Linked DNA regions of Homo sapiens. The protein of the gene in region 1 interacts with the protein of each later gene in a pairwise test. Each region holds a gene or a part of one and is shown in the gene's direction. Other genes may lie near its edges.

Region 1 (4,456 bases):
TGGTATAGAGGGCACCTGGGTGACTAAACCGTGTGGGAAAATCAGTAAAAACAGGGCAGCATGTCAGCCCACTTAGAGTCACCCGATGGAAGGGCAGGGTTTGAAATCAGACACCAAGAGTGCTGAAAGGGCACTTTCTTTTTTCAGAAAACACCCTCGAGGCATGAGCTGAAATGACTGTACTATGGGGTTCTGGAAAGGGTTAAGAAAACATTCACTTTGTGAATGTTACCTCCTCCCTACCTAGCCCATGACCCTAGTTTGTGGACTAAATGTGAACCCTGGCTTTTGGTTAAGATTAGAGCATAAAGTGACAAAGCCCAGAACTGCTGGCACAGAGAAGTAGAAATCTTCAAGCCCCAACCAATGGATTTGAGATTTGCTTGATGGGCCAATTGGATGAAGAAGTCACTCCATCTGTAGATTCTCTCCCTGGGTTCTGGACTTGGACCTGCTGGTCAGGTGCACATGTGAAGAATTACCATCCCTCCCCAGCTAGTAACAGTGTAGTGGAAATAGCAGGAACCTTGGAGGGAGACAGGTCTGAAAGTTGCCTGTGCAACTTAGTTCTTTCTTTGTGAGAAGGAAATTTCCATTCATTTCCTTATCTGGGAAGTGGGGATTCTAATGTCTGCCTCCCAAGGTTTTTGTGAGAATTAAAGTAGAGAATGTAGGTAAAATGATAGCAAGTTTCCTGATAAGTAGTGGTAGGGATGAGTTAGTACCTTCCGTCCTGGAAACCACCTGTGGGCCCATCTTGAATGATCAGTGTTATGTTAAATTCATATATTCTTTTCCACACTTTGATTAGAATAGTTAAAAAGCCACAGTCTAAATATTCTTGGGTGATAGGATATTGCAAAATTTTCCAAGGGTCTAAAATAGTGGTCTGCAAACTATGGCCTCTGTGCCAAATCAGGCCTGCCACTCCATTTGTAAATAAAGTTTTATTGGAACACAGCTCTGTCTATCATTTGAATATTGTCTAGGGCTGCTTTTGCAGAGTTGAGTAGTTGTGACAGAGACTGTGCAGCATACAAAGCCTAAAATATTTTCTCTCTGGCTTATAATAGAAAAACATTGCCAACCTCTGGTCTGAGATGATTTGCTTGGTTCTTCAGGCATTCATTTCCTTAAGATACTCAGTATCAGGCCGGGTGCGGTGGCGGGCGCCTGTAATCCCAGCACTTTGGGAGGCCAAGGCGGGCAGATCACGAGGTCAGGAGATCGAGACCATCCTGGCTAACATGGTGAAACCCCGTCTCTACTAAAAATACAAAAAAATTAGCTGGGGTTGTGGTGGCAGGCCCCTGTAGTCCCAGCTACTCGGGAGGCTGAGGCAGGAGAATGGCATGAACCCGGGAGGCGGAGCTTACAGTGAGCCGAGATCGTGCCACTGCACTCCAGCCTGGGGTACAGAGCGAGACTCCGCCTCAAAAAAAAAAAAAAAAAAAAAAAAGATACTCAGTATCCTGGGGTTGTACATTGCCAACACCAATGGGAAATAAAACTTGCAGCCAATTCATTAAATAATTTGTACAATGCCCCAAACTGATTTGATTGAATTTCTTCCTTAAAAGTGATAGAACTGTGTATAATAAACTGAACTCCATTTGTTAGAAAGTGAACAAATTGGACAGTTGCTTTTTATTGTTGTTGTTTGTATTAGGGAACAATCTACATGCTAATGAAAGGCAGGCTTGACTGATTTTCTTTGGACTGGCTGATTGTCTTGGTGTCCTGTGGACTTGGCCTTGGAACAGGAAATAATTCGTATCAGATTATTATGTCATGGATATGCCTTTGCTTTCAGACAACTTGAACAGAGCAGAGATTTAGCAAACAGAAAAATTAAGGACTTAAAATTCTCATCAACATAGAACTCTGCTCTTCAGATGTACTCTAGGGTTCCACTAAAGAGCCAATATTGTTTGGGAGGCAGTTAAAGATAAGTAAAATGTGTACTATGCATATAATTTTTGGAAGCCTATCTCCTACATAAATTTAAGCACAACTTACAATGAGAGGTAATTTAGGTTTCTGGACAACCTCTAATATTTCTATTCTATGTTACAACCTTTGCTTATTTAATAAGCCTAGTGAGCACCTTTACTTCTTACCAAGTTGATTCCATTGATTCAGCAGTTCTTTTTTTGAGATAGAGTCTTGCTCTGTCACCCAGGCTGCAATGTAGTGGTGCAAGATCAGCTCACTGCAACCTCTGCCTCCAAATTCAAGTGATTCTCCTGCCTCAGCCTCCTGTGTAGCTGAGATTATAGGCACATGCCACAATGCCCAGCTAATTTTGCATTTTCATTGGAGATGGAGTTTCACTATGTTGGCCAGGCTGGTCTCGAACTCCTGACCTCGAGTGATCCACCTGCCTTGGCCTCCCAAAGTGCTGGGATTACAGGTGTGAACCACCACGCCTGGCCAATTAAGCAGTTCTTGCTGTTAAGGGCAAGTAGAATCCAAAAGAGAGACACAAATTCACGTGCACTGTCTGGAGGTGAAATAAAGGACAAACATCAACCAAATACACAGATTTAATTGGTAAAAAAGCAGATGATGTTCTTGATGGATATTTTACTTCCTGCCCCTTATATTTATTTACTAAAGAAAATGCCAGATTTGTCCCCAAAGTTACTGACTCAGAAGTTTTGAAAGCTCTCTCCCAATTCACACTTGGGATTCTGTTCTTTCATGAGGAACCAAAAAAAAAAAAAAAAAAAATCAAGTTTGCCTACAGCTGTTCATTAAATATGTGGACATTTAATTCATAAAGAAGTCTTATAAATATTTGCTTTTAACTTTCCCATTACAAAGTGTTTTTTCCCCCTTTGACATCTTTCTAAAGTAGTTTATCTTCCCACTTAATGAAGATGTCCACCTATTTCTTATTCTGAGCCAACCAAACCAAAGTTGGCTAATTGATTATGAACATTAACATAATTCTCACCTTTATGAAATGCTTAATAACACTCTAGTTTTCTCATTTTTGTAGAACTGCTTGACAACTAAGTGAGCCTACCTGGGATGGGGAGGCCTTCTCTGAAACCCTCTTGTCCCGCTTGTGTGATACTGGGGACAAGCACTTGTAGGCAGGAGCCAGGGGTTTTACTTTCCATTCTACAGATAATTAGATGAGAGACCTTAAGCAAGCCACCTAACCACTTTGGGTCTCAAATGTTCTAGTGCTGGAATGGAACTTGCCTTTTCCTGGCTAATTTTCCTGGAGATTGAACTTGATTGAGGTTCTTTGCCAGCTCTAATTGCTGAGTTTTCCTGAGTGTTTATACAAAAAATAAATTAAAGTTTAAAATCAGAAGTCCTTAATTTAATAGATGGGATTCTTCTATCTGCTTAGGGCAGTGTTTTTATACCTTGGCTACACACTGGAATGCTCTGAGGAGATTTAAGAAACACAGATGCCTGGATCTCAACCTAGAGCTTCTGATTAAATTGTCTTGGGCATTGAAGGAGAGCTGCAAATGGCTCCCAGGTGAGAAGGCTGAGAACTGCTGACCTGGAGGTTGAAATGGATGGCTTCTAATAAACCTTTGGGCATTGCTAAGAGCAGAAGAATGCTCAATCCTTTTAACAGTGATAAACAAACATCTCTGGGGAATGGAGAACTTATTTGGTGCTATGCAGTATACAAAATGTTCTGTTGGATCAGTTTGGATTACATTTGATTGCTGGTGAAGAGACCTGAAATAACGTAGATTTAAGTAAGACAGTGGTGTCCTTTCTCTCACATAAAAGAAGTCCACAGTAGGGTGTTCAGGATCTTATGGAGTCTCACAGTGCCAACATCATCCCAGGCTCCTTTTTCCTTTCTAATCTGCCATCCTTGGCATGTGGCTCTTGTCCTCAAGATTTTTTTCATAGTTGCCATTGTAACTCCAGCCATTACATCTGTGAGCATCACATCTTCGGACAAGCAAGAAGAAGAAAAAGGAATAGCAAAAGATCATGCCTCCTGATCGCTGCCCCTTCTCCCTCCCAACACACAACTTCTGCTGACATCTGATGCCATTTCTATCTACAAGGGAGAATAGCATAATTGTTTAGCTGGGCACATTGCCACCCTCCATAATGCAGGGGCTGTTAGAAAGGAAGGGAAGGTGGATGTTGAGTGTAACAACTGCCAGTCTTCACTATGCTTTGAGTGCATTATCTCATTTAATCCTCATAAAAACTCCATGAAGCAGATTCTGTTGTAAGGTTCATTTTATAGATGAGGAAACTGAATCATGAAGATTAAGTTAGTAACTCTCCTACAAAGCAAAATTCATGTGAACAGACCTCAAGTGTTGGCCTGCTAAGCTGTCCTGTCTCCCTGCCACAGTGCCTGTCTCTCTCACATTGCTTAGGAAGTATTCTTGGTAAAAGCACAGGCCTTCCATGTCAGATAAGGGACCAATGGCAAAAAAAAGCCCTGCAGATGGTAGTT
Region 2 (4,588 bases), on another chromosome or scaffold:
CCTGCCCTCTGGGTTCTAATTCCACCTCCTTTGATGTTTCTCTGACAGCTCTGGGGAGCCCGTTGTTATGTCCCGTTACTGGTGCTGGGCCCACCCCTGGCCAGTGGGTAGCTCCAGGCCTCTCCTGTCCCCTCCCTTGCACAGGCGCATGTTCCCTGCCTGCCGAGTGTCAGTCACTGGCCTGGACCCCGAGGCCCGCTACTTGTTTCTTCTGGATGTGATTCCGGTGGATGGGGCTCGCTACCGCTGGCAGGGCCGGCGCTGGGAGCCCAGCGGCAAGGCAGAGCCCCGCCTGCCTGACCGTGTCTACATTCACCCCGACTCTCCTGCCACTGGTGCACATTGGATGCGGCAGCCTGTGTCTTTCCATCGTGTCAAGCTCACCAACAGCACGCTGGACCCCCACGGCCACGTGAGGCCCAGGCTGGGACTCCAGGATAGGGTTGGGGGGTGCTGGAAGGGAGGCCAAGGGTGAGGCGCAGGGCAGGGAATCACTCCCATTTCCTCCCTCCCAGCTGATCCTGCACTCCATGCACAAGTACCAACCCCGCATACACCTAGTTCGGGCAGCCCAGCTCTGCAGCCAGCACTGGGGGGGCATGGCCTCCTTCCGCTTCCCCGAGACCACATTCATCTCCGTGACAGCCTACCAGAACCCACAGGTGAGTGACCCTGCTTGAGGGGGTGGTGGCCCCCTGCCCAGACCGCAGTTGCTTTGACCCTGCATGTGTGTCCCCAGATCACACAACTGAAGATTGCAGCCAATCCCTTTGCCAAAGGCTTCCGGGAGAACGGCAGAAACTGTAAGAGGTGGGAGTTGTTCATTCATTTGTTCATGCATTCAACAAATGTTTATTAATCACTCACTGTGTGCCAGGCACCGTGCTGGACATCAGAAATGCAGTGGTAAGTGAAAACATTCATTCACTGACTCAGCAAATACTTATATAGTACCTGCTATGTGCCAGGGACAGTTCCAGGCACTGGAGATAAAACAAACAAAGCAAACCAAAGCCCCGGCCCTCATGCAGCTGATTTCTAGTGGGGAGAGTAGACAAGCAGACAAGAGAAATAAATAAAATGTCATCTGTTAGGAAGCCATTCTAAAGAGAAGAGAGACCAGGTGTGGTGGCTCACGCATGTAATCCCAGCACTCTGGGAGGCTGAGGCGGGCAGATCACCTGAGGCCAGGAGTTCGAGACCAGCCTGCCAACATGGTGAAACCCTGTCTCTGCTAAAAATACAAAAATTAGCCAGGCATGGTGGCAAACGCCTGTAATCCCAACTACTTGGGAGGCTGAGGCAGGAGAATCTCTTGAACCCAGGAGGTGGAGGTTGCAGTGAGTCGAGATCATGCCATTGCATTCCAGCCTAGGCAACACGAGCAAAACTTCCTCTCAAAAAAAAAAAAAAAAAGAAAGAAAAGAAAACTCTGTCTCAAAAAAAAAAAAAAAAAGAAAAAAAAGAAAAAGGAGAAGAGAAATAAACCAGGAAAAGATAGGAAGGACTGGGGTGAGGTATTAGATAAGAGGCCTGGAAAGGCCTCAGTGGGAAGAAGACACTTGAGAAAGAGCTGAAGGAAGTACGGGAGGGAGCCAGGTGGGCATCTGGCAAAGCACACTAGGGAGTGGGAACAGCACGTGCAAAGGCCCTGAGGTGGGGCTGTGCCTGTGGCGTGGCTGCAGTGGAGTGACTAAGAGTCAGGCAGGGGAGGGGAAGCCAGGTTATGTCGGACAGTAAAGGTTCCGTAAGGCCGTGGGAACTGTTCCAAGTGCAGCACCTCAGAGCTGGCCCCTGCCCTCAAGTAGCTTCCAGTTTGTCAGAAGAGACAGACATGAACCAAGGAGTCACTCCATCAAATGCAAAAGCAGAACTGTGACGGATGTTATGAGGGAGGGGTGTGTGCTCTCGGAGGTCAGGGAGGACTTCCTTGAGGAACTTGCGCTTGCAGTGAGGCAAGGATAGGTTTGGTGGCTCATGCCTGTAGTCCCAGCACTTTCGGAGGCTGAGATGGAAAGATCACTTGAGCCCAGGAGTTGGAGGCTGCAGTGAGCTGTGACCTGTGACTGTGCCACTGCACTCCAGCCTGGGCAACATAGCAAGACCCCATCTCAAATTTTAAAAATGAAAAGAAAAAGGACAGGTTCAGCCCGTGAAGAGGGGACAGAAGAGGATTCCAGAGAGAGGCTGAGAGTGGAGATGGGGCAGAAAGATGAGCTAGGTGAGACTGTGCCCTGGCCTTGCCACTGGGAAGGAGTTTCCACTGATACTAAACACAATAGGAAAGCATGGACAAATTTGAGCAGGGACAAAATTCCAGCTCTGCCACTTTCTAGTTATTTAATTTTCTGGCCTTCAGTTTCTTCATCTATAAAATGGGTATAATGATGGCCCCTACCTGACAGGGTCCCTGGGAGGGTGAAATGCCTGGCACCGGGTAAGTACTGTTACCATCACCATGGCCATCACCATCATCATCATCATCACCACCACTGTTCCCCAGGGAGCGAGACGCCCGTGTGAAGAGGAAACTGCGGGGCCCAGAGCCAGCAGCCACAGAGGCCTATGGGAGCGGAGGTGAGTGTAGTCCCGATGGCGATGGGGCCAGGCCTGAGACAGGGATCCTCCCTAGCCCAACCTCTCCCTTCCCTCTCCCCAGACACACCAGGTGGTCCCTGCGACTCCACCCTGGGTGGAGACATTCGTGAATCAGATCCAGAACAGGCCCCAGCCCCCGGGGAAGCCACCGCTGCCCCGGCACCTCTGTGTGGTGGCCCCAGTGCTGAGGCCTACCTCCTGCACCCTGCGGCTTTCCATGGGGCCCCCAGTCACCTTCCCACCAGGTGAGTGGGACAGGGGACCAGGCGGGGCTGCGGGTCCCTCTGCCCTGCTCTGACATCCCTCTCTCCATGTCAGGAGCCCCAGCTTCCCGGAGGCTCCAGACTCCGGGCGCTCAGCCCCCTACTCGGCTGCATTTCTGGAGCTGCCGCACGGGTCAGGGGGCTCCGGGTACCCAGCGGCTCCACCGGCGGTACCCTTTGCCCCGCACTTTCTCCAAGGGGGCCCCTTCCCTCTACCATACACCGCGCCTGGGGGCTATCTGGATGTGGGCTCCAAACCCATGTACTGAACCACTGCTGGGCCCCTCTGCCTCCATCACAAACCTCCCGCTCCCTTCCCCCAGCCCTGGAGCCCCCTCACCTCCACCGGCCCCATCCCCCACACCAAATGGCCGCCTTGGGCCTGCCCACCCACCCCCTCAACTTCACACCTTGATTTCACTCCCACCCCCCTCTGGCTTCAAAGCCTAACCAAGGCTGCTGGGAGTCCAGCTGGGGCCGGCTTCCCCTTCCCGGCTCTCACCTCCGTGTGAATGGAAGGGGCTCTGCCTGGCCAAATGGGGCCACAGACCAGCATCCCCACTTACCAGGCCTCCCCATGGGCTCTGGAGGGGCTCAATCCCCACCCCCCCACACACACTGGTGCAGGCCACACCAGTCTGTTGTTCTGGGACCAGAGTATTTTTGTTAATAAAACTCAAAAGCCATCCATGCTCAGGAAACATTGGGCTCCTGTGTTTGGCCCTGGGCGGGGCTGGGTGAGCAAAGGCTTTGCTAGGAGACCCAGGCCCAGATCTAGACCTGTGTTTCCAGCTGCCTGACCTAGCACAAAATCCACTGGCCCTCTAGGCCCATCTCCTCTTCAGGAAAATGGAGAAATCAGAATCCTGTGATTCTGTGTGTGCCTGTGTGTGTATGCTGTTAATAAGATAAGGCTGCCCATGAGAACAGAGCCCTCTCCCTAGGGCTGGGGAAGCCAGCAGGCAGCGGCCCCTGGAGGCCCTGGGCAAGCTGACTGGCCTGAGCCTGGCCCTCTTGGCAGGTCGGGGCCCTGAGGCAGTCAAGGCCCTGACGTCCACCCCAGGTCCCAGGCCAGCAACCCTGTGCATTCCCAACCAAGTCTGGCACAAACCCAAAAACCATTTTTCTTCTTTTATTAGAATTTTTTCATTTTTTTTCTCAAAATTTTTATCTAAAAACAAACAGAAAAAAGAAGGAAAAAAAGAAAAAAAAATTATTGGAAACTTCATGGTTCAAGTGGGGAGAGAGGAGGAGGAACATGGAGCTAGGTCTCCAGGCCTCTCCAGAGAAGTCCTCACCCTCGAAGCACCCTCTTGGGGGACAGCAGAGCCAGGACAGCCCCCCCCACGCCCAGCCTCCGTCTGAGGAAGATGGCAGAGTCACAGTGGTGCGAGGGCCAGAAGGGTTGGAGGGGGCAGGGGCCGGGCGGGGTCACAGGAAGTAGTCGGCCACGGGCTTCTTGGAGGGGATGCCCCGTGTCTCTTGGGGAGCAGCCTCAAAGATGATGAAATCTTTCTGGAGATGCTCGTCCAGCTCCAAGATGGCTGCCACATTCCCACAGCTGGAAGGCGGGGCAGCAGGGTCAGGAGCAGCTCGGCTCAGATGCCCGCCCATCCCAGCCCGGCCCAGCCGGCTCACCGGTAGCAGTAGTTGGGTGCCGACCACACAGTGAGCACCGTCTCATTGAAGTGCCACTTGTAACCTTCCATCACCAGTTGGTGGGCACG
Region 3 (4,456 bases), on another chromosome or scaffold:
TGGTATATTGTTCAGGCTTAAGAAAGGAAATTCTGCTACAACATGTGCTGCAACATGGTTGAACCTTGAGGACATTATGTTAAAGTGAAATAGGCTAGTCACAAAAGGACAAGTACCATATGATTCCACTTACTTGAGGTACCTAGAGTAGTCAAATTCATAGAGACAAAGTTGAATTGTGGTTGCCGGGGTGGAGGCGAGGGGAGAATGGTGAGGAGGTTTTTATTGGATATAGCTTCAGTTCTGCAAGATTAAAAAAAACAAAAACCTTAACAAAAAAATCACATACAAATTATTCTTAGCTTATGGGCCAAACAGAAACTGGTAGCTGGGCTGGATTTGATCTGTGTGCTGTGGTTTGCTGACCCCTGGCCTAGAGTTAGAACAGTAAAAGGAAGCCTCAAACATAGTGATCTTGAGCCCAGGGAGGTCAAGGCTGCAGTGAGCTGTGGTCGTGCCACTGCACTCCAGCCTGGGCAACAGACTGAGAGACCGTGTCTCAAAAAAAACAAAAACAAACAAAAACCATAGTGATCTCTCATGCTTGCTTACCCTTTTATATACTTCTCAGGGAGTGTTTGACTTTTTCCCAAAAGGTCAGTAATCTTTTTCCAGTGTCATTGTATTAATCTTATCAATTCTTCTCACTTCTTTCAGTGACCTCTTCCATCCCAGTATTTGACCTCCAGGATGGTGGACGGAAAATATGTCCACGATGTAATGCTCAATTTCGTGTTACTGAAGCTTTGAGAGGTCACATGTGTGTAAGTGATATCACCTGTGATCCAGCTTAAGTGGCTTCTGCCATTTACCTTCATTAATATTGGAAGCTTGTAAGCAGGGGCTCTAAAATGACTGAAGCTTTTTAAAGGGTTACTGTTTCTCTTGGTCTGTTTTTAGAAGAGCTGTGTACTTTGGAATGTGATGGGATACATTTAAAGACCCTCAAATAGATCAGAACATATGTGATCTTACTTTCTTAGTGTGGTAGATTTTGAAACCACACAGGAGAACAGGTTTATAGATAATAAGGACTCAAACCATATTGGCCTCAGTTCATTTTTGTTAATTGTGTCATTGGATGAATCGGGAGCTCTTACTTCCATTTTTTAGCTTTTCATTTTTTGGTATTAGTCCAGATAAAAAGGTTGGAACTTCTTCTTTGCCAGGGAGCTCAGAGCCAAGTTATACTAATGATTAAGGGACCTAAGACAGGCAGGAGGGAGAAATACAAAGTATAGCGCTTGGGTGGCATATGTGGATATACTCTAGAAAAGGAGTAAAACTTGGAAACGCTAAAAAAAACTGAAGGGTGAAAGCTGAATGAGAATACCTGAAACCAAACCGTTAACAAGGAATGGTAGTGAAGTTAAGGAGTTAGCACATTCTAGCCCCCAGGATAACCAGAATGATCAGATGTCTTTCTTTATAGTACTGTTGCCCAGAAATGGTTGAATACCAGAAGAAAGGAAAGTCCCTGGATTCAGAACCCAGTGTCCCATCAGCAGCAAAGCCCCCATCCCCTGAGAAAACAGCTCCTGTTGCTTCCACACCCTCTTCTACACCTATTCCTGCTCTGTCACCGCCTACCAAAGTACCAGAACCAAATGAGAACGTGGGCGATGCCGTCCAGACCAAACTCATTATGCTTGTAGATGACTTCTACTATGGACGGGATGGTGGCAAAGTAGCCCAGCTCACAAATTTCCCTAAGGTCGCCACATCTTTCCGATGCCCACATTGTACCAAAAGGCTAAAAAACAATATTCGGTAAGTGTTTAAGAGCCTTGGAAGTTACCTTGAACAAGAGAAGACTTACATTTTCTTATATATTTTAAGTCTTTCTCTTTGGAGAATGGACCTAACTACTATGCAGTCTTGCTGGGGTTATCATTAAATCAATAACTAGGACTATAGAAGGAGATATTGTGGTAATAAACAAAAGGTAACTGGATCGAGTAAGGGAAAGCAGTATGTCTCCTTTCCCAGAACTCTCTTAGTTTCAAGAACTCATTATCTTTCTGGGCTCAGAAAAGGATATCCCAAACAGGAAGTCTGGGGAATGGAGGGGAGCAGATAATGTTTGTTCTGTGATTTTACCATTATATTTCTAAAAGGCTACCAATTTTTTATGTTTTCTGTACTTTCTCTTTGTGCTTTATTACAGATTCATGAACCATATGAAACACCACGTAGAACTCGATCAGCAGAACGGTGAGGTAGATGGTCACACTATCTGCCAGCACTGTTACCGCCAGTTTTCCACTCCCTTCCAGCTTCAGTGCCACTTGGAAAATGTTCATAGTCCCTATGAATCTACTAGTAAGTTTGGAAACTCTTAAACTCAAGGGGAATATACCTTGCTGTTCACTCATTGAATGGCGCTGGGGGGAGCCCATTATATTTATTTACATGTGGGTAACAGTGTAGAGGAAGTACTTTTCATATTTGTAGCCAGTTCTTTACTTCATTCACCTTGTTTTTTTTTACAAGCCTGACTTTTATTTTGTTCAAGCATGGATTGAGTTCAGTGTTAGATCCTGAATTGTTAGGGGCGTTGATTCAGAACCACTGTAGAAAAACAAATGTAATTAATTTATTTCTTAGGTCTCTTTATAGAAGGAACAGTCATCTATTTGCTCTTCCACTTTAGTTAAACCCTGATAGGTTTTATGTAGGCTAAAAGATAATATTGTGAAGTACTTTATCATTAAGACATTGCTTTCAATGAAATATAAGATGAGCTGGAGTGTTTTCTACACTGTATATTTTATACATGTAGGCTGGACATAAGCTCAAAGAAATTAAGTAGGATAAAAGATAATATGGCCGGGCACGGTGGCTCACGCCTGTAATCCCAACACTTTGGGAGGCCGAAGCAGGCAGATCACCTGAAGTCAGGAATTCGAGACCAGCCCGGCCAACATGGCGAAGCCCCATCTCTACTAAAAATGCAAAAATTAGCTGGGTGTGGTGGCGGGCACCTGTAATCCCAGCTACTCGGGAGGCTGAGACAGGAGAATCGCTTGAACCCGGGAGGCGGAGGTTGCAGTGAGCTGAGATCATGCCATTGCACTCCAGTCTGGGCAACAAGAGCAAAACTCCATCTCCAAAAAAAAAAAGATAATATTATGAAGTACTTTATCATTAAGACAGTGCTTTCAGTGAAATATAAGGTAAGCTGGAATGTTTTTCTACACTGTACATTTTATAGATAGATGTAGGCTGAACATAAGCTCAAAGAAATTGAGTCATTTGCTTATGAGCGTACACCTCTAAATACACCTCTACTGGGGATACATAGTGAGGATTTAAGCCCAGTATTGAGAATACTTCTCATGTCCTTTACGGGATTTCCAGTTTTGTTGTAAAGACAAAAATTATGTAAATATAGGAAAATGTGAGAACAAGATAGTATATTATAAACATAGACATTTTAAGATATCATTGATAGGTGAAATACTTCAGAGAAGGGAAAAAATCCTTGTGGCTAGGTTTCCAAGAAAGTCGTGCTTAAATTTAAGAAAGGTTTAGATGGATGGAGAGTAGTAAGAAAAGCTTTTAGGTGATTGAAAACAGCATGATCAAAAGCATAGAAGACATATGCATATTATCTGGATGCATTTGCTACAAGTAAAAATCCTTAACTAAAAATGAATTAAACAATAAGGACTGGGTGTGGTGGCTCACACCTGTAATCCCAGCACTTTGGGAGGCTTAGGTGGGTGGATCAGTTGAGGCCAGGGGAGACCAGTCTGGCCAACATGGCAAAACCACATCTCTACTAAAAATACAAAAATTCGCTGGCTGTGGTGGTGTGCGCAGGTAATCCCAACTACTCAGGAAGCCAAGGCATGAGAATCACTTGATCCCAGGAGGTAGAGGTTGCAGTGAGCTGAGATCGCACCACTGCACTCCAGCCTGGATGACAGAGCGAGTCTCTGTCTCAAAACAAAAGAAAACAATAAGAATATCTGTTATATCATTTAACTGAGAGATACAGAAATGGATGCTTCAGCCTAGAATTTGACTGCCCTGCTGGTTTTCAACAATTCTCTTGTCTCTGGCTCATAGCAGGGTGGCTGTATAAGTGTCAGGCACTATGTCCAGATAAAAAATTGTTAGACAAAGAAGAGATCTTATCTTCCCATCTTTCTTTCTTGAATCTGTTTTCTTATGAGTGAGAATTGCTTTCCTTTTATATCTCTTTGACCATTTATTGGCAAGGGAAGTGGGATTGACATTAATGGCTTACAGTAACACTAGGCAGTAGAAATACGCAAGCTTCATGAGTAATTTTAATTTTTTTCACTTTAAATACAGTAGCGCTCCCTTATCCTCAATTTTTCTTTCTTGAATCTGTTTTCTTATGAGTGAGAATTGCTTTCCTTTTATATCTCTGACCATTTATTGGCAAGGGAAGTGGGATTGACATTAATGGCTTACAGTAACACTA
Region 4 (4,456 bases), on another chromosome or scaffold:
GCTTTTGTTTTAGTTGAAAACTTGGTGCACTGCCCCCCTTCGGGTCCTCATTCTCTTCAGAGATAGAATTTAGTATTGAAAACACCCTCTAAGAGAGGAGAATATGCCCTCACGTTATCTTCTCTTAGAGGGTGTAGAGTTCTTTGCGGGAGGGATTCTTTCCAAATGCAGATTGGAACACCTTCTTCGCCCAGGTTCTTCTGGGGAGGGAGCTAACACATTCTGCCTAGGAAATGCAGGCAATGACTACTTTCAGCAGGAGTTCTAGACATTCCTTTCGTGGGGAAGGAGTACAGAGCATGACAATCCAGGAGTCTCTTGGCTCCTGAAAACTCCACTCTGCCACACCAATCCTAGTTCATCCAGTCAGTGGTCAGTGACCCTGGGATGGATGGAATCTCTGCAGTGAGGTGGAGTAGGAAGAAGCATCCACTCGTCTTTGTTTATCTACAGTAATGACACTTTTAAATGGATCTTGAGGATTCATAATTATTTCCTTAGGTCCAGAGTTAGGGCTGACAAGACTGTTTGGGTTGCTGAAAGCCCCTCTAGACCCCTTCGTTGGCCAGATAGAAATACAATGAGCAAATTTCTCTTATATAAGCCACTGGCCAGAAAAATATTCATAGGAAGGCTTCTGTCTTAAACCTGTAATTCATGTAACTGAGTCTGGGCTTTACCTTGCTTGGCTGGTGGGGGTCCTTCCCCAGGAATGAGTCTCGATAGAAACCAGCATCTGTTTACTGAGGCATGTCTAAGATCAAGGGGAAGAAAGTCCAAGAGTCCCCGAAGGATACTTGGGTTCTGTTTCTGTGTTTCTTCCCGTGGACCCTCCATAGTCCTGAATGCCATATAAGATGCCAGCAATCCCTGTGGCTCAGCCAAGCCAGCCTCACAGCTCCTCCTGCTCTGCCCATGTCACATTTACATCCAAAGAAAAAGAACGTCTGCACAAGAGCTGAGCATACCTGGCACTTAGTGAGCTCTCAATGAATGAAAGCTGTGATTCTTCTCTCTGAGGACTGCCACAGGTGTGGTGTGGTGCTGAGAGCAGATGTATTCATCATCTCATTTAATTCTCACAACTCTGCCAGGCAGGTATTGCTACGACATTTTTATAGAAGAGAGGGGAAGGAACTGGTGTTCAAAGAGGTTGATAAGACTCCAATTCCCCTTTCCACTGCTCCCTACCTCAACCACCCAAAGTCCAGCTCATCAGAACTCGGCTACTAGATGATCGACACCTGGAATCCTAGTGGAAACTCCCATCAGAACCCTTGATAAGAAGGCCCAAGTGCCCGTGCTGGCAGTGACAGGCAGAGCCTTCCGTCTATCAGCTTGCTTTCCTCATCAGTGTTCCCCACTCTCCAGTTTAATTAAAATACACCCCTTTCCAGTATGGTTCTCAGTCTTCCCATCTGTGAAATGGAGAAGTGGTTCCTGCCTGGATGCCTCTCCTAGAAGTAGCTATGAGAAGGAAGGAGATGATCAGCCACTTGGAAAGGCAGAGGGAGGGAGGCCTTACTTTCACACATCCCCCCAAGGCTGCCGTGTCTCCATCTGCACTGGAAAAAAAGCAGCTATCCTCAGGCACCACAAGTTGAAGGACCCTGGGGAACTTACTTCCCTAACTTGGCATCTCCCAAGCACACTCAGCCTCCCTGCCTAGGTTCATCTTGGATGTGATGCGAACAGCTTCAGAGTGGCTGGGGAGGCTTCCCCATGCTGTTAGGGGCCAGCACTGGGGGCCCCATCCACAGGCAGCATAGCTAGGAGTGGTGGCCACTGGAGGTGCCGGTTGTTATGTCCCAAAGCTTAGGTTCATCCCCTCTGCCACTTCCTCAGGATCCCTCTCACTCAGGGGCTTAAAAGCAAGGCATTTCTCTTTTGGAGCCTCTGCAGAGGTTCAGTTTTAGAACGTTAGCTTGAAAGAAAGGGATTTTATTTTAATGTTTTCACTTTTTCATGTAGAAAGTAGCTGCTTAGCTCCCGGGCTCTCAGATGAAAACCTCTCTTTGGTTTAAGCAGAGGGAGAGATTGAGAAAGAAAAAATAATTCATTCCTCCCTGCTTTTAACTTTTTTTCGTCATCTTCAGCCACAATACTCATTGGTTTTGTCTTTTTTATTTGTCTTCTTAAATGGCCTTGGGGTGACATGGGTAGTTAGTGCTAATTAGTCCACTAGGACATATTGTGACTGTCAGGGCAGCACAGCAGAAGGGTCCAGGAGCTGGTTGGGTGACGCACCTAAGAGAGAAATGGCTTAATCTGCTGTCATCGGTGTGTACTACAGTGTTCGCGCACACCCAGGCCCTCTGTGTGTTGCAGTTTTGATTCTTCGGCATCTCCAGGAGGACAGTAGAACTTATTATTCTTGGGATAAACTCAGGGGCCATGAGGTGTCAAGAGAATGAGAGGCTTTTGAAATCAGCGTGAAGCCAGGATGAAAGCCCCTGCCCTGCAGGCAGAAGAAGAAGGCAAAGCCCGGGCTTCCATCTTGGCCCAGACCTTGCTGTTTTTGTGTGAACTTAGTCAAGTCAGATGTCTCTCTGGGCTTGTACTTCCCCTTTATAAAATATGGGGATGCTGCAGGGCTTCTGGGGAGTCATGTGAGTAAAACCTGTCTCCTCACCTGGCACATAGCTGCCACTCAAGACAATTTTCTGTGCTCCATGTAGTAGTCACCAAGGAGTGGAGTCTCCAGAACACATTCCCAAAGTCCCATTGTCGTAGTATTTCCTGTGAAACAGCCACCAGTAACTTGCAACCCAGTACTTCGTTCCATTTAAAATTTAGGACAGACTTTTCAATAATTCATGTGGACAAAATAATAGATCTACCACCTAGGAGTACTGGGATTAAATGAAGGGACGCATAGAAAGTGCTGGCTATGACCTCTGCGGCTGTTATCTGCTGTTACCACAGCCTGAAATGGAAAAGGATGCCTTAGTTCACCTTACCAGAAAACCCAGTCATAGGGAAAACACTAAGCTTTTGATAGAATGGCTGTCTGTGGACTGTGTGTTGAAATCCAGAACATTCTAAGGGTTTAATAGAGTTGGTCTTTGAGCAAAAATGAGCTCAAGTGGGTTTGCAGTTATGCTGTGTGTGCGGCTAAGACAGGACTGCAGGAAGACTTGCCTGGGGTACTTGTTTTTAATTGACACGGAATCATATATTTATTTTTAAAAAATTAAATCCACGTATCCTCCACCTTCTGCTTTCTTCTCTCTCCCTCCCTCCCCACCTGCCTCTGTCTCACAATTTTCTACTTTGGGTAATAATAATCCAGCTTTGGCCTGATAGCAAACCCTGGTTGACATTTAAAAGTCTCTGTGATTAGCTGAGCACCAAATCTCTGACTTAAGCTTTGCTTTGCTCCTTTGCTTCAACACTGAGCAAGGTAGAAGGCACCTCTACAGGGCAGGGAGCTGGAGTCTTGCTCTTCCCTTTCAAGAAGGCAGACCCGCAGAACCAGGAGGAAGAATGATCAGACAAAACAACTCAGTGGTAGGAAAAGGACTGAACACTAACAACCCATTCGGCAGGAGCACCAAAGTTCATTTTTCTTGAACAGTCACCCCAGCACAACTATGTTGTGGCTGTTGACAGGTAAACCCCATCTGGCTTTCTCCAGTCTGCTCCTCATTGTTCCAGAGCCAGTGTGCTCCATGACGGTCTACACTGGGGCTCCATCTCAGGGCTGCTGGACAGTTTGTGGCAAAATGTGGCAGGGCTGTAGGTAGAAGTGCCATGGAGATACTTCTGCCAAATGAAAATGCTTACTGGACACTTCCAATGCCTAGGCTCCATGCCTTCACAGATATGCAAACTTTCCCCTCTGTAGGCCTTACATCTCTTTGGCAGTATGAAAAGACCTGGGTCCTTCGAGCCTTGGGGACCTTCCTGGGCCCCCCATATTCCCTGGGGACATGGCAGTACCCCATACCAGGAAGGTCCCCATGGCCCATGGCCCACCCCCACTGCTGGCCATGGGGCTGTCTAGACAGGTGCCCCACACTGTGACAGGCCTGCCTGGGCCTCAGGGCTCCCCCTTTTGCAGGTGGCACCTGCTTTCAAGGGTCCTGCTTACAGTGACATAGCTGCTGTCCTGAGACTCTCCTTTCCTCAGGGCCTGGCTGGGGGCCATGCCATGTCTGCAAAGCACTTGGTCACGTGCTGCCCACATTCCAGCTGTCCTCACCCATCCCAGCTCCAAAGCCACCTCCCCATGAAGCTGTCCATGATTCCTCTTCCTCTTCCCCACCTCCCCAAGGTCTCCTAGCACTCTGTTTGTACGGCATGCCTTGCAGTCCAATTTTTGGAGAAGGCTTGATCTCTGTGGCTCGCAGCTTCCAGACTTGAGTTACTTGAGTACCTGGGACAATGTATGCCTCGCACATCTCAGAAGCTTCATAGGCTTTCATTATGCTGGTCTACCTGGATCCAGAGTTGT
Region 5 (4,456 bases), on another chromosome or scaffold:
AGCTGGGATTACAGGCACACACTACCATGCCCGGCTAATTTTTGTATTTTTAGTAGGGGTAGGATTTCACATTGTTGGTTAGGCTGGCCTCAAACTCCTGAACTGGTGATCTGCCCACCTCGGCCTCCCAAAGTGCTGGGATTACAGGCATGAGCCACCGCGCCCGCCCCCTCTTCTTATAAGGATGCCAGTCAGATTGTAGTAAGGTCCACCCTAATGACCTTATTTTACCTTAATTACGTCTTTAAAGACCCTATCTCCAAATACAATTACATTTTGAGGTATCAGGAATTAGGACTTCCGTGTATGAATTTTGGTAGATGCAACTTAGCCCATAGCAGAGGTTAAGGATGAGTGTGGACTTTCTGGGCTGGCAGTGGGGTCCGAGGCTGCCCTGTTCTGTGGACGGGAGAGGGATGCCCAGCTAGGTGGGAGTGTAGAACCTGCACAGCCTGCTGTCAAGCAGACCCCCAAGCAGGGGGAGATGCTCGACATGGGTGAAGAGCACTGTGCATGAGCTGCAAGAGAAGAGCAGTACAGGGTGGTGGGCCAGCCCCTGGAGGCCAGGTTGTTTATTTCTCCAGGAGATAGGGAGGAGCCAGGAAAGGATTGCCCTGAGGCAATGTGGAGCTCCGCTGGAGGGACGGAGGCCAGAGGAGGCTGGGGCTGCAGTTTTAGGGATGCTAGGAGGGGTGGGATTTAGGACCGGGTTAGAGTTAGTGGCTGCCTGAAGTAGGGCTAAGGTCTGGGTGAACTAGAGCTAGGATCAGGCAGGATTCCCGCCTTTACTGCTCCAAAGTCAGGACACACTTGCTGCCCAGCTCCCTTCTTGTCCTTCTTATATCTTGTATCAGTAGCCATTTAATGCCCTGTCCCCAGGGCCAGGAAACAGGACCTGAACTCTGGTAGCGTCCTGGGCACCCACTCCCCACCCCCACCCTCAACAGTCTACATCTTTTTTTTTTTTTTTGAGACAGAGTCTTGCTCTATTATCCAAGCTGGAGTGCAGTGGTACAATCACGGCTCACTGTAGCCTCAATCTCCTGGGCTCGAGCGACCTTCCCATCTCAGCCTACTGAGTAGCTGGGACTGTAGGTGCCCACCACCATCATGTCCGGTTAACTTTTTTATTTTTTGGAGAGACGGGGATTTCACTATGTTGCCCAGGCTGGTCTCAAACTCCTAGCCTCAAGTGATCTACCTGCCTTGGTGCAGTGTGCATCTTAATGGGACTGTGTGCTGGCGTTTTGCTTTTTAGCTTTTAAATGTTTTCTTGCTTGTTAAAACATAACGTATATAGAGTAAAGTGCTCAAATTTTAAGTGTATAGCTTGATGAATTTTTGCTTATGTAAGGACCCTGTAACCACCAAACAAGATCCTTTCTTACCTGGTGCAGGCTTCCTCATGCCCTTTCCCAGTCAGTACCCCCAAGGTGCTCACTCATCTGACTGTGATCATCTGCTATCAGCTTGCCCGTTTTTGAATTTCCTGTAATTGGAATCATAAATTATGTCTGCCTTTGTGTTTGGCATCTTTCATTCAGCCTCATGTCTCCAAGCTTCGGCCATGTGTATGAAGCAGGAGTTTGTTCTTTTTCATTACTGTGGCATATTTCATTGTATGGACATACCACATTTTATTTATCCATTCACCTGTTGACGGCCCCTTAGGCTGTTTCCAGTTTGGGGCCATTATGAAAGACTGCAGAAGAATTCTGCCCATGTCCTTTGATGGGCAGGACACGTGTTTCTTTTGGGCAGATGCCCAGGAGTGGACGTGCTGCATCTTAGGGAGAGGGCATCTTTTCAGCTTTTCTGAGTGGTGCTTGTATCAATTTACACTCCCACCAGCAATGCATGACCTGTTTTTTTAATTAGGAATTTAAAACTCAAGCAGCATTTCACATTGAATAATACTCAATTGCAAGATTTCTAGACTTTTTTTTTTTTTTACAGTTACTGAGTTCTTCCTATTTCTTATCCCTTACTTTAGCTCCATTCTTTTTTTTTTTCTTTTTTTTTTTTTTTGAGACAGGGTCTCACTCTGTCACCCAGGCTGGAGCGCAGTGGTGCAGTCACAGCTCACTGTAGCCTTGACCTCCTGGATTCAAGCGATTCTCCTGCCTCAGCCTCCCCAATAGCTGGGACTACAGGTGCGTGCCATCATGCCCAGCTAATTTTTGTGTCTTTAGTAGAGATGGGGTTTCTCCATGTTGCCTAGGCTGGTCTTGAACTCCTGGGTTCAAGAGATCTGGCTGCCTCAGTCTCCCAAAGTGCTGGGATTGCAGGCGTGAACCACTGTGCCTGGCTTAGCTGTCTTCTTTAAGTATCTTGGTGCAGAGAACACTAGAGTTGGACAGCTCCTTTAGTAGGAGTGGGGTCATGGTTTAGGCAGGGATTTTGGAGTGAGTTGTGGGAAGAGTTTGGATCAGGGACAGGATCTCAGGACAGTTGGGAGTCAAGGTCAGATGAAGGACTTGAGCCATCTGGGCACAACTTGGGATTCAAGGTGAGTAAGTGGACTAAGGATGGGTCAGGCTGAAGCCCAGATTTGTCCTGGGGTCTAGGACCAGGAAGGGTTGGATTCAGTTTCAGGATGAGCTTGGGCGAGGGAACTGTTGGAGATGAGATGGCTGGAAGTCAGGACTAGGGGACATTAGACTAGAGTGGATCCGATTAGAAGTAGGAGCCCAGCAGTCATGAAGACCAGGGGTCCAATCAGGGCACATCTGCTGTCTTGCTGTGCTTTTGGGGAGGTGACATCCCTTCGTGGAGCCTCAGTTTCCTCCTCTGTAAAACGGGGTAATATTAGCACTAACCGCTAATGTGAGCTGTGAGTCATATCTAGCTCTATGCTTGGCACTGGTGAGCACTCGCCTTTCTGTGAAAAGTATCAGAGCGCTTTGAGGACAGGCATTTGTCTCCGTGGGTTTATGTGCTTGCTGCCTGCCACCCTCCCTTGGCCACCTCCTTTCATTTCCTGGGCCTAGGGAGCTATAGAATGGGGTTGTATTACAGGGGTGGACTTGAGACTGCAGCTGGGGCTCAAGCGTGAAGTCCCAGATCAGGTTTAGATTGGAGGACAAGCTCAGGGGTAGAGCCAGATGGAGCTGAGGTTACAGAGGATGAGGTTGGGTCTGCTAGGCCGGTGTGCTAAACATAGGAAGAAAGTCCAGGTGGGAGTAAGATGTGGATGGGGAAAGTGGTGGGGTGGGAAGAGGGCCAGAGGGCGGCTGAATCACACATGCTGAGATCTGACAACTGCCTCCTTTGGGGACGCTGCAGCCCCATCACATCTCTGAGGCCCCACTCAGAGTGGAAAACATGTCTCACCCGAAACCTGGTAGGGCAGGACGGGAGCCTGGGCGGCCCGCCCCAGGAGGAGGCCCAAGGCTGCTCTCCCTCCTTTGGGACGTCACCAGCCTCCTCCTGGGCAGCTGATACCTTCTCACGACCACCTTCCATCTCCTGCCCTGCCCTTTGCTGCACTGTGGGTAACACCCCTGTGTTACTTTCTGGAGAGGTGAAAGGATAAGGCAAGATCCCCCAAGGCCTAAGTGCTGTGTCTCATCTTGCCAGAGGAGGGCAGAGGCCCAGAACGGAGGACATGTCTCTTGGGAAGAGACACTTCCAAGGTGGCTGGGGGTAAGGGGGGAATTTGGGGGAAAGGCTTGGGGAGTGTGGTGGAATGGGGGCCCGAGAGCCCTCCTGGATTCCCCTCCTTCACCCCACTTCCATTCCTCCTCTGTCCCCAGAAATAAGAATGTCTAAGCCCCTGGAGGCCGAGAAGCAAGGTCTGGACTCCCCATCAGAGCACACAGGTGGGTGGGCAGGGAGCAGGGGGGCAGGGGTCACCGTGGGCAGGGGAAGTGGGACAGATGGGAAGAGAGCTGGGAGGGGACAGGTGTGGTGGGGGTGGCTGATGACAACACATCCTTTCCCTCTCTTTGCAGACACCGAAAGAAATGGACCAGACACTAATCATCAGGTTAGGAGGGAGTGGATAAGCGGGAGGGGGTGGGAAGGAATGGGGAGAGGGGTTCAGAGGGGGCTCTGTGCCGCCTATGGTAGGAGGGCAGGGAGCGGGGGTGGTCAGAAGCTGCTTCACTGCACTATTCCCATCCCCTTGCTCCTACTTTCTCTTTGCAGAACCCCCAAAATAAGACCTCCCCATTCTCCGTGTCCCCAACTGGCCCCAGTACAAAGGTAAGCACCTGTCAGAACAGCCAGGGAAGTGGGCAGCGCTTGGAAGAGGGTCCTCAGGAGGCCTGCCTCAGTCCAAGGGCTGAGAGAGCACTGAGCCTTGGTACCTTGGTAACGAGGTTCCTCCCGCCCCTTCTCACTCTTGGGCTCCCACCCCAGGCCTGTGACTCACGCAGGCTCCTTCCCCTTCCCTAGGGGGTGGGGGTGGCTAGGGAAATCCCCCCCAGAGCCCCAGGGCGATGAACAACAGGAA
Region 6 (3,447 bases), on another chromosome or scaffold:
TCTAGCAATAAAAAACCAAACCAAACCAAAACTGAAACCACTAAACTCCTCAAATATAGGCCTACCAGAGCAGAATCATAAATCAGTTGTGCTCTATTCATGTAGTAGACTACTTTTCAGAAATTAAAACAACAAAATTCACATCACATACGACAGAGATCTACCTAATAGTGACACACAGAAGAATTGGGGATGGAAATGGGAAGTTTCAGTATACTACATGAGACCACCTAAGTGAAGTACAGAACAAGAAAGCCTTATGTAGGATGTTAATTGTTACTCTACAAGGAATAATATTGACTGGTAGAGTCAAGCGCCAGACTTTGGGAATTAGAGTGTGCTTGTTATAGGTGGTCTATAAATATAAGAAAAATATCACCAACTTGTATACTTAAGATTTAAGTATTTTTAAATATGCCTTAAACAACAGCAACAAAAAGCAAATGAAATGATAGGTTATTTGTTCCTCTAAAGAAAGAAAGCTATTTGAGCTAATTTCTCTTTTAAATTCTTATTGTTGGATACATTCGTAGTATTGTTCATTTCTATGAGATGTAAGATTTTTACCTGTAAGAACTAGAATTCATTCATCTATTCAACACTTATATATTGAGTTTCTATTGCATGCTGGTCATTGAACTGCAGCCAGCAAATCTATCTGGAGAAATGCACAATTTCAAAATTGCTTATAAACTCATCAAAAGCTTAACAGTATATTCAAAGTAATAAAAATTAAACAAGAAATTATATATTTAAGCTTAAAGTTAAGGGCATATGTGGGTGGGGTTTGGGGTCAGCCTTGGGTCTAGGTGACTAAATTCTTAGAGTCAGCTGAGGTACTCTTTGTCTTTAATTATTATTTCCTTCATCCTGTCTTTTTATATTATACATATTTTTAGGGGATTCCTAAGACATTCACAATGCTAACAGTCTCTTACTGAATTCCCCAGGGTCTTTGGCGATGGCATCTATTAACATCTAACACTTTAATAAATACCTAACATCTTAGTAAAGCTTAGTTAGCTATTTTCTTTTAGGAAAAAAAAGAAACACACAATAGGTAAAGGTAACATAAAGGCAAAAATATCTGAAAAATCGAAGATTTTATTTATATATATATATGAATTTAAGTAAGTATTAAATGAAAATGGATGGGAGGCAAAAAGAATTGCATATATTTCACCATCTCACCTAGTCCCAGACCCTAATGGGAACTGAAAGAATATATTGAAAAGAGGAGGCCGGGCGCTGTGGCTCATGCCTGTAATCCCAGCACTGTGGGAGGCCGAGACGGGTGGATCACGAGGTCAGGAGATCGAGACCATCCGGGCTAACACGGTGAAACCCCGTCTCTACTAAAAATACAAAAAAAAATTAGCCGGGCGTGGTGGCGGGTGCCTGTAGTCCCAGCTAATCCGGAGGCTGAGGCCGGAGAATGGCGTGAACCCGGGTGGTGGAGCTTGCAGTGAGCCGAGACAGCGCCACTGCACTCCAGCCTGGGCGAAAGAGCGAGATTCTGTCTCAGAAAAAAAAAAAAAAAGAAAAGAAAAGAGGATAATTGTGTGGATCAGGAAAAAGGAATGAATGGGAGGAGGGCAATACAATCTGTATTTTTGGTAGCACCTTGGATGTCTAATATGCCAGTAAGGGAGTCGGGATGTGAAAACAATTTTGAACAGTTTGTAAAGCTGCTTAGGAAATAGATTTTTGATTACTGTGATTTGACTTTAATGTTTGAGCAATATACTGTTGTGTTGTTAAATCAAAATGGTTTTTATTTTTTAAACGAGTAAAACCAAAAAAAGAGAATATTGGTTATGATGGCCAATGTTCTAGAGTAATAGAAGAATGATGGCTTTATTTTAACTTTTTTAACCCCATGAAATTCTTTACTGTTAGGCATAGCAGGTGAGCAGATGGCTCCAGTCTTTCAAATGTTTGCTTCTCTTTAAAAAGGGACCTCACCTGAGGTAATAGATACCTCTGGAAGAATATAATAAATTTCAGAGCATTGAATTTAACCAAAGTCTGTTATTTAATCATAAATGAGTAAAACAATTCAAGGAAAGCCAGAGATGAAGCAATATTTAATTTCAAAACATAGCATTACCAACTATGTAATGCAATATGCCTACGAAGAAGTCTATTTAAGGTCTGGTATGCACAGACTTTGAAGCTACAGCAATTTCTTCTCATAAAAGTGATGCAATATGTTAAAGGGACAGCATGAGAAGACAGCAATGCAAGCTCAAACACTTTAATGAGTTTGAGGGCCTCTTCAGATGTCAGGATTGGGTCAGGTAAGTGTAACATACACAACTACACTAAAATAGGCAGCAAGTGTTTTGTTACGTGATGTGTCAGGGTATATAAGCATGCCTGCACAGATGTCAACATTCACACTCAGGACCTTGCCTTGAGCAGCAAACCAAACTCACTACCCCTGACACCATGAGCTACTACGGCAGCTACTATGGAGGCCTGGGCTATGGCTGTGGAGGCTTTGGTGGCCTGGGCTATGGCTATGGCTGTGGATGTGGCAGCTTCCGCAGACTGGGTTCTGGCTGTGGCTATGGAGGCTACGGATATGGCTCTGGCTTTGGAGGCTATGGATATGGCTCTGGCTTCGGAGGCTACGGATATGGCTGCTACCGCCCATCATACTATGGAGGATATGGATTCTCTGGATTCTATTAAACTACTGCCCCAGCAACACAATGTGTGAAATTATAAGAGGACTTTCCCAGAGCTGACTTCAATCATTGGACAACAAAGATCATGCTGGAGCTATTTGCACAAAAGAATTTAACATCTCAGAATTTCAGGCAATTTTTTTTCTCTGTATACCCACATCTCTATAATAATCCTAGTATTCTCTACTTTTGCTTTTAAAGCTGATTGAATTATCTGTTTATCTTCCAATAAAACATTCTATTTTCAAACACAATATGGTTCTGTTTTGTTCATGAAACTCAATTATACGTAAGTGATGATGTCAATGAGAGAAGCTATCTCCTTGGTTGAGAATCTATGTTTTTTCATATACCTCATAAACATGCATGCAGATAGATAAATACATCGATAGCTCCAAAGAAGAATAATTCTAGATTGAAATGAAAAGAACTGCAAAATGGTTAGTAATCTGATATTTTTCAACATTTTCCTTTTATTTAGATAGTATTCAGATTTAAGTCAACAACAAAAAGGAATACCTACTAAACATGTCTTTATATTTATATATCAAGCATATATGTTTTATTTAATTCAGATCACATTTGTCAACTCACTCTGAATGTGTAATGAATTCTTCTATCCATTCAAAATTTCTTTCTTTTTATTGTAAGAGCAAGCAAATGGTGACAGATCAAATGATATTCCTAGGTTAATTATGAAAGTGTATTTTCTTTCCAAGAATTATTGTAATTGGTATAACCTCACCCTATCATA
Region 7 (4,456 bases), on another chromosome or scaffold:
GATGAGTGGTTGTGTTCAGTTTTTTTTATTGATACATAATTTGTTACGCATCCTTTTGATTATCTTTTTGTTTCCATAAAATTTCTAAAGAGGAACTTTGGAATGGGATTTATAGGTCTTCAGAATATCATCTTCATGACTTTTGATGCATGAACATACTTCTTAAGAGGTTTTTAAGAGGTTGTACATAGAAACTTGCACAATGGATGATTATTACTGCCTTAAACTAGTCTCAATTTAATAAAAAGTACCCATGTAACTTAACTGATATTTACATGTAGTAGATTTTTTTTCAAAGGTTGACATAGGGAAAGATAAGGGAAATGATATGCTGGTTCTTAATGAAAAAGGGAATGTCTTTTTGTGGTCTACTAATTGACTGCTTTAAGAAGAGAACCTACTGTTAGTTCAGTGGATTGTTAAGTTCTGGAGTAGTGTTAGTTTAGAAGCAATAAAGGATTGGTTGCTAAAGGTAAAAAGCAAACCTTAAAACAATAACCTAAAAACAAATGGGAAGGTTCTGGGCAGAGAATTAACATTGTTAATGCAGTTCAGTTTCAGTTTTCTTTTTGTCATACAGCAGAGCTAACTATTTCCTGGTTGGTTAATGGAAAGATGTTATGCTGTATCAGCTGGAATCTAGCTTTGCTTATGAAGGTGTAATCACATAGGTGAAAGATGTTGATTACTGAGTTTTCTCACACCATATATTAATCAAATACTCTTATTTGGGTTGGGTTTCTAGAGGGAAATTTCAGTTTGACTTTTCATTTATAATTTTTCCGTTTGGTTCTAAACCTATAGGGGACATTACATTCAGTACACTTCATTTTTAAAGAATATGTTGCTTAACAATAATTCTAGATCCTGGGATTGGATATCTATCAGATCCCACTCATATCTCCACAGTGTGAAATTAACAAAAAGATATAGTTAAATACTCAGTCTCTATTTAGACCGAATAATTGTTTTTCTCAGCTGGACACATTTTCCAGCCATTCGGTTTTTGCCTGCCTTATGTATTTAGGTGATTATTCTTCTAGGTTTATCAAGAAACTGAGGAGTACCTTTTTAGGATTGTTGCTGGAGGCTGTTGAAACATAGACTAGCTTCAAATTTGAGAGTCAGATTGATTGATAAAATATATCTCATGCTGTTACCGCTGAATAAATGACTTTTGCTGGTAAAGTAGTATGCTTTTAAAATAATATGAAAAAATTCTGAATTAAGGTTAGTAATTTACACTGTAATTGATTTTAGGTGTTATTATATTACTTGCTAATAAGATTTTTTTTTCTGGGAATAGAAGCTTATAAAAATTTAAAATATGTTTAATTTTCTATATAGCTCCATCAAGTATGATGGTGAAGGATGAATATGTGCATGACTTTGAGGGACAGCCATCGTTGTCCACTGAAGGACATTCAATTCAAACCATCCAGCATCCACCAAGTAATCGTGCATCGACAGAGACATACAGCACCCCAGCTCTGTTAGCCCCATCTGAGTCTAATGCTACCAGCACTGCCAACTTTCCCAACATTCCTGTGGCTTCCACAAGTGAGTTCTAGAATCAGATGTAGTCAGCAAGTTGAGTTTTCCTAATCATTGCTTATTTATGTGTAGTCACTTGGGGGGAAACTCCAAGTAAGTAAACATTAAAAGTAACTGTAGTATCTTTCATAGGTAAACAGGTATTAAACAGGTATGCACAATCACTTGGAATTTAAGTAATGGCTTTGATTATAATATTGATTTAAATTAATGATCTGATTTATACTTTACTATTACATGTAGCAGTAAGTAGCCTCTTAAGCTCCCAGATATATTTTGGAGAAATATTTAAATAATTAACAAGTAGTTTTGATCCAAGATGTTTATGAAGGTCTGTGTTAATGGAATTGCAACCTTTCTTTTAATGCGGTGTTCTTATTTTGGTTTTTCTGGGACAATATTACCTTATAGTAGTTGTCTGATTTTCTCACTGTGCAAAGGGATCTTGACAAATTTGTTATATATTGCTCAAGATAGACATTAATTAAGTCAATTTTGATATAAGCTAACTTCTATATCTCTTTTTAAAATATATGTGTAATTAAAAAAAAAAAGTGTTTCAGAAAGATCCTTCTTTTCTGCCATGTCATAGGAGGGAGAGGGGCTGCTAGGTTCAGGTTTTTGGGGGCATGATCATATGACCTGGTTCTGTTACTTATTTTCACAGTAACCAAAGGTTTGATAGTTTGCTGCTTGGCAAATGAAGTAGCTTTTTTTTCATTTTTTTTTTTTCAATTAATCATAGAGCATTGTCTTGGCATGTGTATGGTGTTAGTTGCATGCAGTTGCTAAAGGAATTTATGTAAACCCACATCAGAATAGATTTTTGACAGCTCTGGGCTAATACTGTGTTAGTTGCTACCGAAAGTACCATTATTGTATTTGCTTTACTATCAGATTAGATTCAACATAGAAATTTTGATCTTTGGAATAAATGGGGGACTGATTTCTGTAATTGTGAGTTTTCAAGTGAAGTATACCAGAATTTCCCCTTTAATTCATTACACCACTTCAAAGCAACATGTTTTTGGTTTGCTATCTAAGAGATGACAGTCTCACTATAGGCAGCATATTCTAAATGGGTCATATAGGTTAAGCACTTGAGAACCCAGTTCCTTAATCACTTGGTGCTTCTATTATCTGTCTACTTTTTATTTACCAAATTAGGAATATGGTTGACAAACAGTGGGTAGTGATAGAAAATAAAAGAAGGTACATTATAGCCACTTGAACGTAGATTAGTGCTAGAGCACAGCTACCTACTTCTGTTTATATTATCTGGAGATTGAATTTCTGTGCCTTTGTCAATGCTTACTAAAGTGACTTCATTTTGACTGTGTTGTTTCCTGAGGTTGAATCCTATTCAAAGATTAGAAAAAGTGATAGAAATGAAATGCAGCTAATTTTATCCTGGTATTTATTGGGTAGATTTTAATAATCGAATACCGTAAATACTGTAAGTTTTAGAACTTGTGTCAAAATGTTCCCTTATGTGGTGGCATGCGCCTGTAGTCCCAGCTGCTCCGGGGGCTGAGGCAGGAGAAATGGCGTGAACCCGGGAGGCGGAGCTTGCAGTGAGCAGAGAGCGAGTCACTGCACTCCAGCCTGGGCGACACAGCGAGACTCCATCTCCAAAAAAAAAAAAAAAAAAAAAAAAGAGGGTTCCCTTAGGTCTCAAAAAGTATATTGATGAAAAGAAGTTGAACTAAAATAGAAGATTTGAAAGGCTATTTTACGTGAGCTGATTTAGTCGTATTGTTTAACTTTATTTTACATACTTAGAATTGTATAAGGGAAGTATTCAGTATGGATAACTACAGTGAGTCACTTTACAATTTATGTTCTTTTGACACCTGAATATTTTAAGAATTTCCTTTTAAATACCTGTAAATTAAAATAATTTATCCTGTGTAGTTAATGACAATTTTTGTAAGTTAGCTAAGAGTATTGCCTGTAGAATTGTTAAAAATATGAACAAAACCATAATTAACCTTTAAAGATAACTTGCAGAATCTGGGGGATGAGTAGGAAGGGAGGTTGCTAAAATGTCATTTTTACAGATAAATAATTTGGGGAGTATTGAAATATTCTCTTTAGCTTTTGGTTTTGTAATTCTTAGCTTTAAGGAAATGTGATATGTAAAGAAAAGAAAAATATTCCTTTTCTTTGATACTTTGAGCAATGGTGACATGTTACTCTCTTCCATCTGATTATACTCCCATTTAGAAAAGAATGAGGTGATGCCAGTTATAAATAATTATAACTTTAGTGCTTTCCAAATAGGATTAACAGTCGAGTTAATTAATGCTCTTTAAGAAACCAAATTTCCACTTTAAAAAAAAAGCCTTAAAAATGTAGGACAGTAAGCAATATCATAGGATGGTTTTTGAATAGAATACAAGCCAAGAGAAGCTTGATTCTCTTGGTATATTACATACAGAGAGGGCAATTAATTTCTTGTACATCTGGGAATATGATGGTGTTCTTGAAAAGAAATGATTCTTGGTTTATAAAAGCTCTTGAAAAAATTTGAAAGTAGACTGATAGTTTTTTTGTTTGTTTTTAACCAGTAAATGGTATATTGATTGGACAGCAGAGCTAGATCTTTTTAACTTCCTCATCTTCACTATCACATCCTATTTAAAATAATTTTCTGCTCTGCTTTTCTCTGTCAAACCCTAGCATTCTGCCATTACTAGTATCAGTGCTGATAGTGATTAATTTTTCAGTTTTCAACATTTTCTTGAGCCTGGATTTTTGGGGTCCTAATCAGAAAGGTCCAGAGAGAGAGGTGGATGGAGTGGCCAGGATGAACTGACATACCTCTGAAGAAGTTAATATGATAGGCCAGACGTACAGTGGTGTTTTGCTGGCATTTGAAATATGTTTGTGAAGAAATAAG

Evidence for each region.
Region 2: the proteins of POU2AF1 (region 1) and TBX6 interact in binary tests that used the Homo sapiens proteins (3 or more experiments, as listed by UniProt).
Region 3: the proteins of POU2AF1 (region 1) and POGZ interact in binary tests that used the Homo sapiens proteins (3 or more experiments, as listed by UniProt).
Region 4: the proteins of POU2AF1 (region 1) and PAX8 interact in a two-hybrid assay, tested with the Homo sapiens proteins (one large-scale study listed by BioGRID and IntAct).
Region 5: the proteins of POU2AF1 (region 1) and POU2F2 interact in a two-hybrid assay, tested with the Homo sapiens proteins (one large-scale study listed by IntAct).
Region 6: the proteins of POU2AF1 (region 1) and KRTAP19-3 interact in binary tests that used the Homo sapiens proteins (3 or more experiments, as listed by UniProt).
Region 7: the proteins of POU2AF1 (region 1) and SMAD4 interact in a protein complementation assay, tested with the Homo sapiens proteins (one large-scale study listed by IntAct).

Annotation. Positions count from the first base shown.
Region 1 is NC_000011.10:111,372,394-111,376,849, reverse strand, and holds part of POU2AF1 (POU domain class 2-associating factor 1), read left to right. Parts: intron 1-4,456. UniProt on the Homo sapiens protein: Transcriptional coactivator that specifically associates with either POU2F1/OCT1 or POU2F2/OCT2. It boosts the POU2F1/OCT1 mediated promoter activity and to a lesser extent, that of POU2F2/OCT2. It recognizes the POU domains of POU2F1/OCT1 and POU2F2/OCT2.
Region 2 is NC_000016.10:30,084,767-30,089,354, reverse strand, and holds the end of TBX6 (T-box transcription factor TBX6), read left to right. Parts: intron 1-144; coding exon 145-412; intron 413-515; coding exon 516-662; intron 663-739; coding exon 740-810; intron 811-2,405; exon of another isoform or gene 2,406-2,503; coding exon 2,504-2,577; intron 2,578-2,659; coding exon 2,660-2,843; intron 2,844-2,916; coding exon 2,917-3,130; 3' UTR 3,131-3,562; downstream 3,563-4,588. Other genes in the region: PPP4C (serine/threonine-protein phosphatase 4 catalytic subunit), read right to left, coding at 4,293-4,422, 4,500-4,588. UniProt on the Homo sapiens protein: T-box transcription factor that plays an essential role in the determination of the fate of axial stem cells: neural vs mesodermal. Acts in part by down-regulating, a specific enhancer (N1) of SOX2, to inhibit neural development.
Region 3 is NC_000001.11:151,421,263-151,425,718, reverse strand, and holds part of POGZ (pogo transposable element with ZNF domain), read left to right. Parts: intron 1-657; coding exon 658-764; intron 765-1,432; coding exon 1,433-1,770; intron 1,771-2,167; coding exon 2,168-2,322; intron 2,323-4,456. UniProt on the Homo sapiens protein: Plays a role in mitotic cell cycle progression and is involved in kinetochore assembly and mitotic sister chromatid cohesion.
Region 4 is NC_000002.12:113,268,484-113,272,939, reverse strand, and holds part of PAX8 (paired box protein Pax-8), read left to right. Parts: intron 1-4,456. UniProt on the Homo sapiens protein: Transcription factor for the thyroid-specific expression of the genes exclusively expressed in the thyroid cell type, maintaining the functional differentiation of such cells.
Region 5 is NC_000019.10:42,121,876-42,126,331, reverse strand, and holds part of POU2F2 (POU domain, class 2, transcription factor 2), read left to right. Parts: intron 1-2,037; exon of another isoform or gene 2,038-2,153; intron 2,154-3,405; exon of another isoform or gene 3,406-3,607; coding exon of another isoform or gene 3,608-3,635; exon of another isoform or gene 3,636-3,645; intron 3,646-3,755; coding exon 3,756-3,821; intron 3,822-3,953; coding exon 3,954-3,988; intron 3,989-4,149; coding exon 4,150-4,206; intron 4,207-4,456. UniProt on the Homo sapiens protein: Transcription factor that specifically binds to the octamer motif (5'-ATTTGCAT-3'). Regulates IL6 expression in B cells with POU2AF1. Regulates transcription in a number of tissues in addition to activating immunoglobulin gene expression.
Region 6 is NC_000021.9:30,490,962-30,494,408, reverse strand, and holds KRTAP19-3 (keratin-associated protein 19-3), read left to right. Parts: upstream 1-2,395; 5' UTR 2,396-2,451; coding exon 2,452-2,697; 3' UTR 2,698-2,947; downstream 2,948-3,447. UniProt on the Homo sapiens protein: In the hair cortex, hair keratin intermediate filaments are embedded in an interfilamentous matrix, consisting of hair keratin-associated proteins (KRTAP), which are essential for the formation of a rigid and resistant hair shaft through their extensive disulfide bond cross-linking with abundant cysteine residues of hair keratins.
Region 7 is NC_000018.10:51,053,434-51,057,889, forward strand, and holds part of SMAD4 (mothers against decapentaplegic homolog 4), read left to right. Parts: intron 1-1,347; coding exon 1,348-1,560; intron 1,561-4,456. UniProt on the Homo sapiens protein: In muscle physiology, plays a central role in the balance between atrophy and hypertrophy. When recruited by MSTN, promotes atrophy response via phosphorylated SMAD2/4.